Homo sapiens: one gene and its partner. The protein of the gene in region 1 interacts with the protein of each later gene in a biochemical or structural test. Each region holds a gene or a part of one and is shown on either strand. Other genes may lie near its edges. The genes, in order: NEK9 and BICD2.

The links.
Region 2: of the proteins of NEK9 (region 1) and BICD2, one has a biochemical effect on the other in vitro, tested with the Homo sapiens proteins (one study listed by BioGRID).

Annotation. Positions count from the first base shown.
Region 1 is NC_000014.9:75,116,856-75,120,671, forward strand, and holds part of NEK9 (serine/threonine-protein kinase Nek9), read right to left. Parts: intron 3,726-3,816; coding exon 3,655-3,725; intron 2,081-3,654; coding exon 1,975-2,080; intron 472-1,974; coding exon 340-471; intron 1-339.
Region 2 is NC_000009.12:92,716,165-92,719,980, reverse strand, and holds part of BICD2 (protein bicaudal D homolog 2), read left to right. Parts: intron 1-398; coding exon 399-1,442; intron 1,443-2,032; coding exon 2,033-2,184; intron 2,185-3,816. UniProt on the Homo sapiens protein: Acts as an adapter protein linking the dynein motor complex to various cargos and converts dynein from a non-processive to a highly processive motor in the presence of dynactin.

The DNA of each region.
Region 1 (3,816 bases):
TTTTTGTGCCTCAGCCTCTCAAATAGCTGGGATTACAGGTGTGCGCCACCACACCCGGCTGAGTTTTGTATTTCTAATGGAGACGGGGTTTCACCATGTTGGCCGGGGTGACCTCAAGTGATCCACCCACCTCGGCCTCCCAAAATGCTGGGATTACAGGCGTGAGCCACTGCGCCTGGCTGGGTCTATAGCATTTTAGTAATAGATTACTAATCTTGTACCTGAATACAGGTTATTTTTGCCAGAAATCAGAAGCCTGGGAATAGAGTTGATCTGCTTAGTCAAGCTGTACCATTTGCAACCTGCTAAATGCAATATGGGGATAATATGCCAACTTACTGTAGCATCAAACGTCCTCTTTAAGGTAAGCAGTTCAAAAATGACGCAGCCAACTGCCCAGATATCAGACTTGAAATTGTACTTTACTCCTTGACAGAGCTCTGGAGACATGTAATATGGGGTTCCCACAAGCTGAGCAACAAAGAAACAATCAAAGAATAACTTCTTTTCTGAGGTAACTATGTTAACATTTCAACAGCTTAATTAAATTTCCTAGGAACTAGTCATAACAACCATAAAACATTCATCAGCAGATTCCAAAATGGTTTTTATGAGACGATGCCACTATGGAAAGAAATCTTATTCATATCAAACCTCTTGGGTCAATTATAAAGGGACAATCTCTGTGACAAAGGAACTGTGGTAACTTGAGGGGCTCAATAGCTCTGTGATTCCTAGATCACAGAGGCTTCAGGCATTCAAGGCCTACTGAAGACTTTACACAAACTTAAAGACATACTTAGTAGAAGTTCACCAATGGGAAAAAAATCCAAACACTGGCAGTGGGGAGATGGTAACTCAATGAAGGAATTAGATGTTCTAACTAAAATACGCGCAATGAAACTTTTAAAATGCCCAATTTGGCATCTGTTATACTAACACAGCTAGCGAATTTCCTTTGAATTTGAAAAAGATTTTCTGACTTCAAAAATAAATTTGGAAATAAAAATGTCCTAAGAAGTCATGCCTCTCCCAAGATGAGATATAATGAATGCCCTAGCAGCTCTAATAAAATTCATAGTCAGCTTTAAGCAGCAAAGCAAAGCAAATTTCAGATGGCTTACATGGCTTTTATAAATTTTCATATCATTCCTTCTTTGCATTTAACTAGCTAAAAAAAGTCAAGTCTTGGTTTTATCAGATTGTTCTTGATGAGAAAAATCCATATAAAGATATGATTGCTTCTTCAGAAGCTCACTTTGGCCTCCATCATAGAAACATCTGAGTCCCTGAAGCAGAGACTCCAAACCCTAAACATCTAAATTGCTTGCAGGCAAACCTTGACATTATTAAAAAAAAAATTATTGGCCAAAATCAGTTTTCAATTTCTTTTAAGGACAGAGCATTGTGAAACTAGAAGAATAACAACTGGGTTTTATAATTCCTAAAAGGATAAGATTACTGTCCTAAAGATCAACTTATGTCTACTCTTTACCAATGATCTTTCTCAAAATCATGTGAGAAGGGACCCCTGTGCAGTTCAGACTGTGTATAATATTAAAGAATGGATTGTTCTCTGAGCATCAGCCTTCACTTGAAATATAGGGTTCTCTTTGAACCAGAAGCATTCAAAGGAAAAACAAAGAGATGTCTAACACCTTGAGCTCAAACATTAAATAAGAGATAAAGTGAAATCTACTAAAGATCCTAACCTGGACAAAACAGTAAAGCATTTTGCTGCTTTTAGATAAGTCCCTAATCAGTGCTGGAAAAAGGCTATGAGGTCAGAGCTGTAACGTGGGCAATGACTTAAATGCCTGCTAGTGGGCCCAGGAAAAAGACTTCTGAAGACATGCATTAAAAGTATGGAGAACTTGCAAGAATATTGAGAAAAGTATGCAAGATTTAGGGAGTACAGTTATATTTCACAGTGCTAGAAAATAAAATAAAAATTAAGACAAGGGCAACACATACCGTCTCAGCCATGGAATACTCAGAATTAAGTTTCTTTGCTAGGCCATAATCTCCAAGTTTTATCAGGTTTGCCTTGGTCAGAAAAATATTTAATGTCTTTATATCTCTGAAAAAAAAAGATGCTGCAAATTAAGTTCACACAGATAATTGTTTTATTTCATCCCCCGCCTTGCCCAGGATTATTACAGAATAAAAATGAGTGTGGGCCGGGTACAGTGGCTCACATCTGTAATCTCAGCACTTTGGGAGGGCAAGGCAGGAGTACTGCTTGAGGCCAGGAGTTCTTCACCAGCCTGGGCAACATGGTGAGACCCCATCTCTACAAAAAATAAATTAGTCAGGAGTGGTGGCATACACTTGTAGTCCTAGCTTCTCGGGAGGTTAAAGCACCGAGAATCAGTTGAGCCCAGGAGGCTGAGGCTGCAGTGAGTCATGATTGCACCACTACATTCCAGCCTGGGCAACAGGGTGAGACCCTGTCTCAAAAACTAAAACAAAATAAAACAAAAAAAGAGTGTTACCATTGCTCATTCATTTAGGATATCCTAAACATCCCACAGTGGTCATCACTTTCACATGCTATTTAACACTGAAGTGGGGACTTTAAAGGAGTGAAGGCAGAGAATTAACTTCATCCTCTAGGGCTTCACAGCATAGAAATATCTCCCATACTACTGAAGCTATTAGGAAAAGTTGAGACGGTCAGATGAGGAAAATGGTGCTCTAGGTAACCATAATTCCCATAAGATACCACACCTCTTCAACTATCACTTATGCCTTGAATTAAGTGATATCAAGGCAACTTTAACAAACTTGGTTGGTGTCAAAGTTTCAAATAATCTGTTAAGGCAAGAGAAGAGGCCTACATGTCCCTGCAATGATATGATTAGGCCATTTAGTCATCTAAATAAAATCACAGGCTATTTTTCTAAAGATAAATTGACCATATGTAAAACAAAATAACTGTGCCTGGTTCACTATGTCTTCCTTTATTGAAAGATGCGAATAAACCAGAACAATATACTTTGTTACTTTTAAAAAGAAAATAACAACATGCAACAGAAGCCATTTAATAGCTATCAAGAAATACATGTTAACTGAATGAACAAACCAATAAAAAAAGAAATCTTAGTGTATTATAATTAATCTCTGGCACCAGTCAATGACTCACTTAAGAAGGGCATAATGATGTGAAAATGTTATTGAGATGCTTCTCTTCTATAGCTAGAAATGAATGCAATCATGCTTGTTTTTAAAGATCTGGTAAATTTGTACAAGTAAATATACAGAGTGAAGAGGCTTTTATTTAAATTAAAAGATCTTAATTATAGAATTAAAAAGAATTGCCAATTATTATTGCTGTGAATTCTTACCAAATACTACTTCTCATAGTGCCCTTCTAGGCTTTACTGATGAATTAACAAACTGAACTCTAAAATTTTTGTCTGTAAAATGACTTCAGTAGTACTTGGCTACTGAGGAGACTCTTCCTAGATCATAAACATGGTTTAACCTCAGGGAGTGAAAATAATATTGCTCATTACTTTCCTTTCCTAGTGATATCAATGGAAAAACTCTTGGCTGCTTAACCAAGAAAATAAAAGTGTTGTTGGGGGGGTATCCACGGTAGGGGCTGAATTGGTAGGGAAGAATCCATCCATAATTTTTTTTACTTCTTACCTATGAAGGATTCCAGCTTTATGGATGCAGCTCACTGCTGAAACAATCTGAAATAGGTACCACACCACCATCTGCAGAGAAAAAATAAATATTTGGATTAGAAACAAAAAGCTCCATTTAAGTAAATACACACACACATAAACAAACAAAACAAAGAAAACT
Region 2 (3,816 bases), on another chromosome or scaffold:
TCATCCCCTGGGACATGGATCCCTGTTGATCCAAGGCAACAGAGTCCTGTCCTCCGAAGCAGAGGGCTAGGGTGCTAATATTCCCGACTACACACCCAGCCAGCCTAGAGCTCCACTTTCTTAGCCCAGATCCCCTGTAGCATGGTTGGGGAAAGAGCCTGCGTTGAGGGTGACCACCATTACTGGTGACGGTTAGTGTTCTGAGGGCCCAGCATGAATTCCATTCTTTCCACACCCTGTGTGTCTTTGTCCACCTCACTGACAGCATGGCCAAGGAACCTGGGGCTGACAGCCTGCCCTGACATGGGGTGGGATGTCACTAGGCCATCTTGGGGGTCCTCCAAGCTCTCGGGGTCCATAGCAACTGACATGGTGTCCTGCTGCCTGTGCCTTTGCAGATGGAGCGGGAAAAGGCGGGCCTGCTGGCAACGCTGCAGGACACACAGAAGCAGCTGGAGCACACGCGGGGCTCCCTGTCAGAACAGCAGGAGAAGGTGACCCGCCTCACAGAGAATCTGAGTGCCCTGCGGCGCCTGCAGGCCAGCAAGGAGCGGCAGACAGCCCTGGACAACGAGAAGGACCGTGACAGCCATGAGGATGGGGACTACTACGAGGTGGACATCAACGGGCCTGAGATCTTGGCCTGCAAGTACCATGTGGCTGTGGCTGAGGCTGGCGAGCTCCGCGAGCAGCTCAAGGCACTGCGCAGCACGCACGAGGCTCGTGAGGCCCAGCACGCCGAGGAGAAGGGCCGCTATGAGGCTGAGGGCCAGGCACTCACGGAGAAGGTCTCCCTGCTAGAGAAGGCCAGCCGCCAGGACCGCGAGCTGCTGGCCCGGCTGGAGAAGGAGCTAAAGAAGGTGAGCGACGTCGCCGGCGAGACACAGGGCAGCCTGAGTGTGGCCCAGGATGAGCTGGTGACCTTCAGTGAGGAGCTGGCCAATCTCTACCACCACGTGTGCATGTGCAACAATGAGACACCCAACCGTGTCATGCTGGACTACTACCGCGAGGGCCAGGGCGGGGCCGGCCGCACCAGTCCCGGGGGCCGCACCAGCCCCGAGGCGCGTGGCCGGCGCTCACCCATCCTCCTACCCAAGGGGCTGCTGGCTCCTGAGGCGGGCCGAGCAGATGGTGGGACGGGGGACAGCAGCCCCTCGCCTGGCTCCTCACTGCCATCACCCCTGAGTGACCCACGCCGGGAGCCCATGAACATCTACAACCTGATCGCTATCATCCGTGACCAGATCAAGCACCTGCAGGCAGCCGTGGACCGCACCACGGAGCTGTCACGCCAGCGCATTGCCTCTCAGGAGCTGGGCCCCGCCGTGGACAAGGACAAGGAAGCGCTTATGGAGGAGATCCTCAAGCTGAAGTCGCTGCTCAGCACCAAGCGGGAGCAGATCACCACGCTGCGCACTGTGCTCAAGGCCAACAAGCAGGTGAGGTGCCAGGCAGCAGGGGCACATGTCACCTACTACTGGCCTAAGGGTGTTTCCCCCTTGGCCTCCTTCCTCCCCCTGCCACGGGGCCCCCCCAGGCCTGCGTCACCACCAGACAGAGCCAGCCCCATAGTAGCTCGACTGCCTACCCTCCCCTGCTCAGGGCCCCCAGCTGGGAGGGTGGAGCAGGCAGGTGGGTGTGAGGGCCCCTCAGCAGAGCTGCTCAGCCAGTGAGAAATGCCGCTGCCCTTGACTCACTGTGACTGCCTCGTAGTGCTTCCTGATACTGGAGGGAAAACATGTGAGAGCCATAGTCTGAGCTGTGGAGAGCAATTGTGGGGCTTCGTGGAGGTCCTGTTGGCAGGTTTAGGGGCAGTCCCTCCTCTGCCAGTCAGAATCAGCAGGTGGGACTCCCCATGGCGTAGCTGCTGGAGTCCATCCCCAGGGTTTGTCACAGGGAGGGGCCTCCCAGGAGCTTTCTTCCCAGGCACTGCCACCACTTCAGACCGGGGCTCCCGATCCTGCTCCCAGAGCACCTCTAGGCTGACTTCACGCCTTTCACTTTTCCACCCTACACATCTGTCCCCCAGACGGCCGAGGTGGCCCTTGCCAACCTGAAGAGCAAGTATGAGAATGAGAAGGCCATGGTTACCGAGACCATGATGAAGCTGCGCAATGAGCTCAAGGCCCTCAAGGAGGACGCAGCCACCTTCTCCTCGCTGCGTGCTATGTTTGCCACCAGGTAACCGTGCTGCTGTCGGGCCCTCCCCTTCCACAAGGCCAGCTGTCCTCAGCACTTGCCTCTGGAACCCTTAGCCTCTCACTGCCTCATGCTGAGGCCTGCAGCCCTGACTAGTCAGTGGCTGTGCCCAGCTCCATCAGGGCCAGCATGGTACGAGGTTGGGGAAGCATGGCCCCTGGCACATCTCTGGCACACTGGTGCTCAAGTTGGTGACAAGAAAGGGTGAGGCGATATGGGGGCCACATGGGGTTGGGGGCCCCTAGCTGCTGCACCTCAGCTTCCTCCGAGGTCACGCAAGCAGTTGCTGGAGCATAGGGCATGCCTGGCAGGTGCCCACATGTGGCCGGGGATAGCAGAGCGTGTGTGATCCTTTTAATGTTCCTTTTGCACCTAGCCCAGCCCCCAGGAGCCTGGTTCTGTGGCGCCGGTTCCATTTTGCTGTGAATGAAACCGCAGCAGGCCCAGGCTTGTCTCTGCTTTGCATATATGGAGACTGAGGGCAGAAGGGCTGAGGAGAGCAGATCCTGGAGTGGATGGGCCAGAGTTGCATAGCTTCAGGGGATGCTTGGGCTCCCACCCCTTGAATCCAACATTTACAGGGACTTAACTTGGGGCCAACAGGTGACAGAGGAGTCCTGGCCTTTCCTCTCATGAGGTATTTGCCCCCAAGAACTTGGCCATATGGCACAAGTGTGTATTTATGTTTGTAGATTCAGAAGGAAGATTATCCTCCTGGCTGGAGCAGGTCACTGCTGGGGTCCACAGTTCGGGTCCCACCTCTGTGCATAGCCCTGTACCTCTGCGTCATTGTGACCGCTGGGTACTCACCTCCCATCCTCTACTTTGCCAATCTGGGGAGGGTGAGGAGAGGGCCGGGGCTTGGAGGAGACCAGCTTTCTTTCTTCCTCTGTGGAGGGCTCTTAGTAATGGGCTCTGAGGTGGGCTGCCCCTGGTGGGTGCACACCCCTCCCTGGCTGGGACTCAGACCCCAAGGCTGGGAATCGAGGCTCCCTAAGTGTTCACAGGCCTCTGTGGGGCAGGTCCTGGTTTCAGCATCTTCCCAGGTGCCCCCTGACAGGTACCGCTGTCTTTCACTTTCCAAAGATGGGTAGCGCCACCTGCTGGGTCATGTTGGGATAGCACCATGGGGTCAGCCCTGCATGGGGGACAGCCAGGCCCACCATGGGCCCAGCAGATAACCTAGATGTTTCCTTTTTATGGGTGAGCAAGCTGAGGATCTGAGCTGGACAGGGTGGGAACTGCATGCACATAGGGCCTGCTTCTCTCAAGCCTGGTGCCGTGCACTCCCAGTTTCTCAGTATCCCTGCAGGACGTGCCAGAGCAGGGTACAGACAAGGAAGAGTCCCAGGATTTCTCTGGAAGCGTCCTGTCTTCCTGGGGCTTGGGGAAAAAATCCCACAGTTTCTCAGTATCTGGCATGTAAACCCTACCTTTTAAAATTTGTTTTATTTAAAAACTTTTCAGATGGAGCCAAGATTTTGAATCTGCAGGGATCACAGCTCTGTGTGCCCTCAAAAGGGTGGGCAGCAGAGTCCTTGGAGAGGGTGCTATCCAAGGGCCGGCTCCTGGCAGGTGGGGACAGGCAGAGTAGGGTGCGTGTGGGCAGGGTGG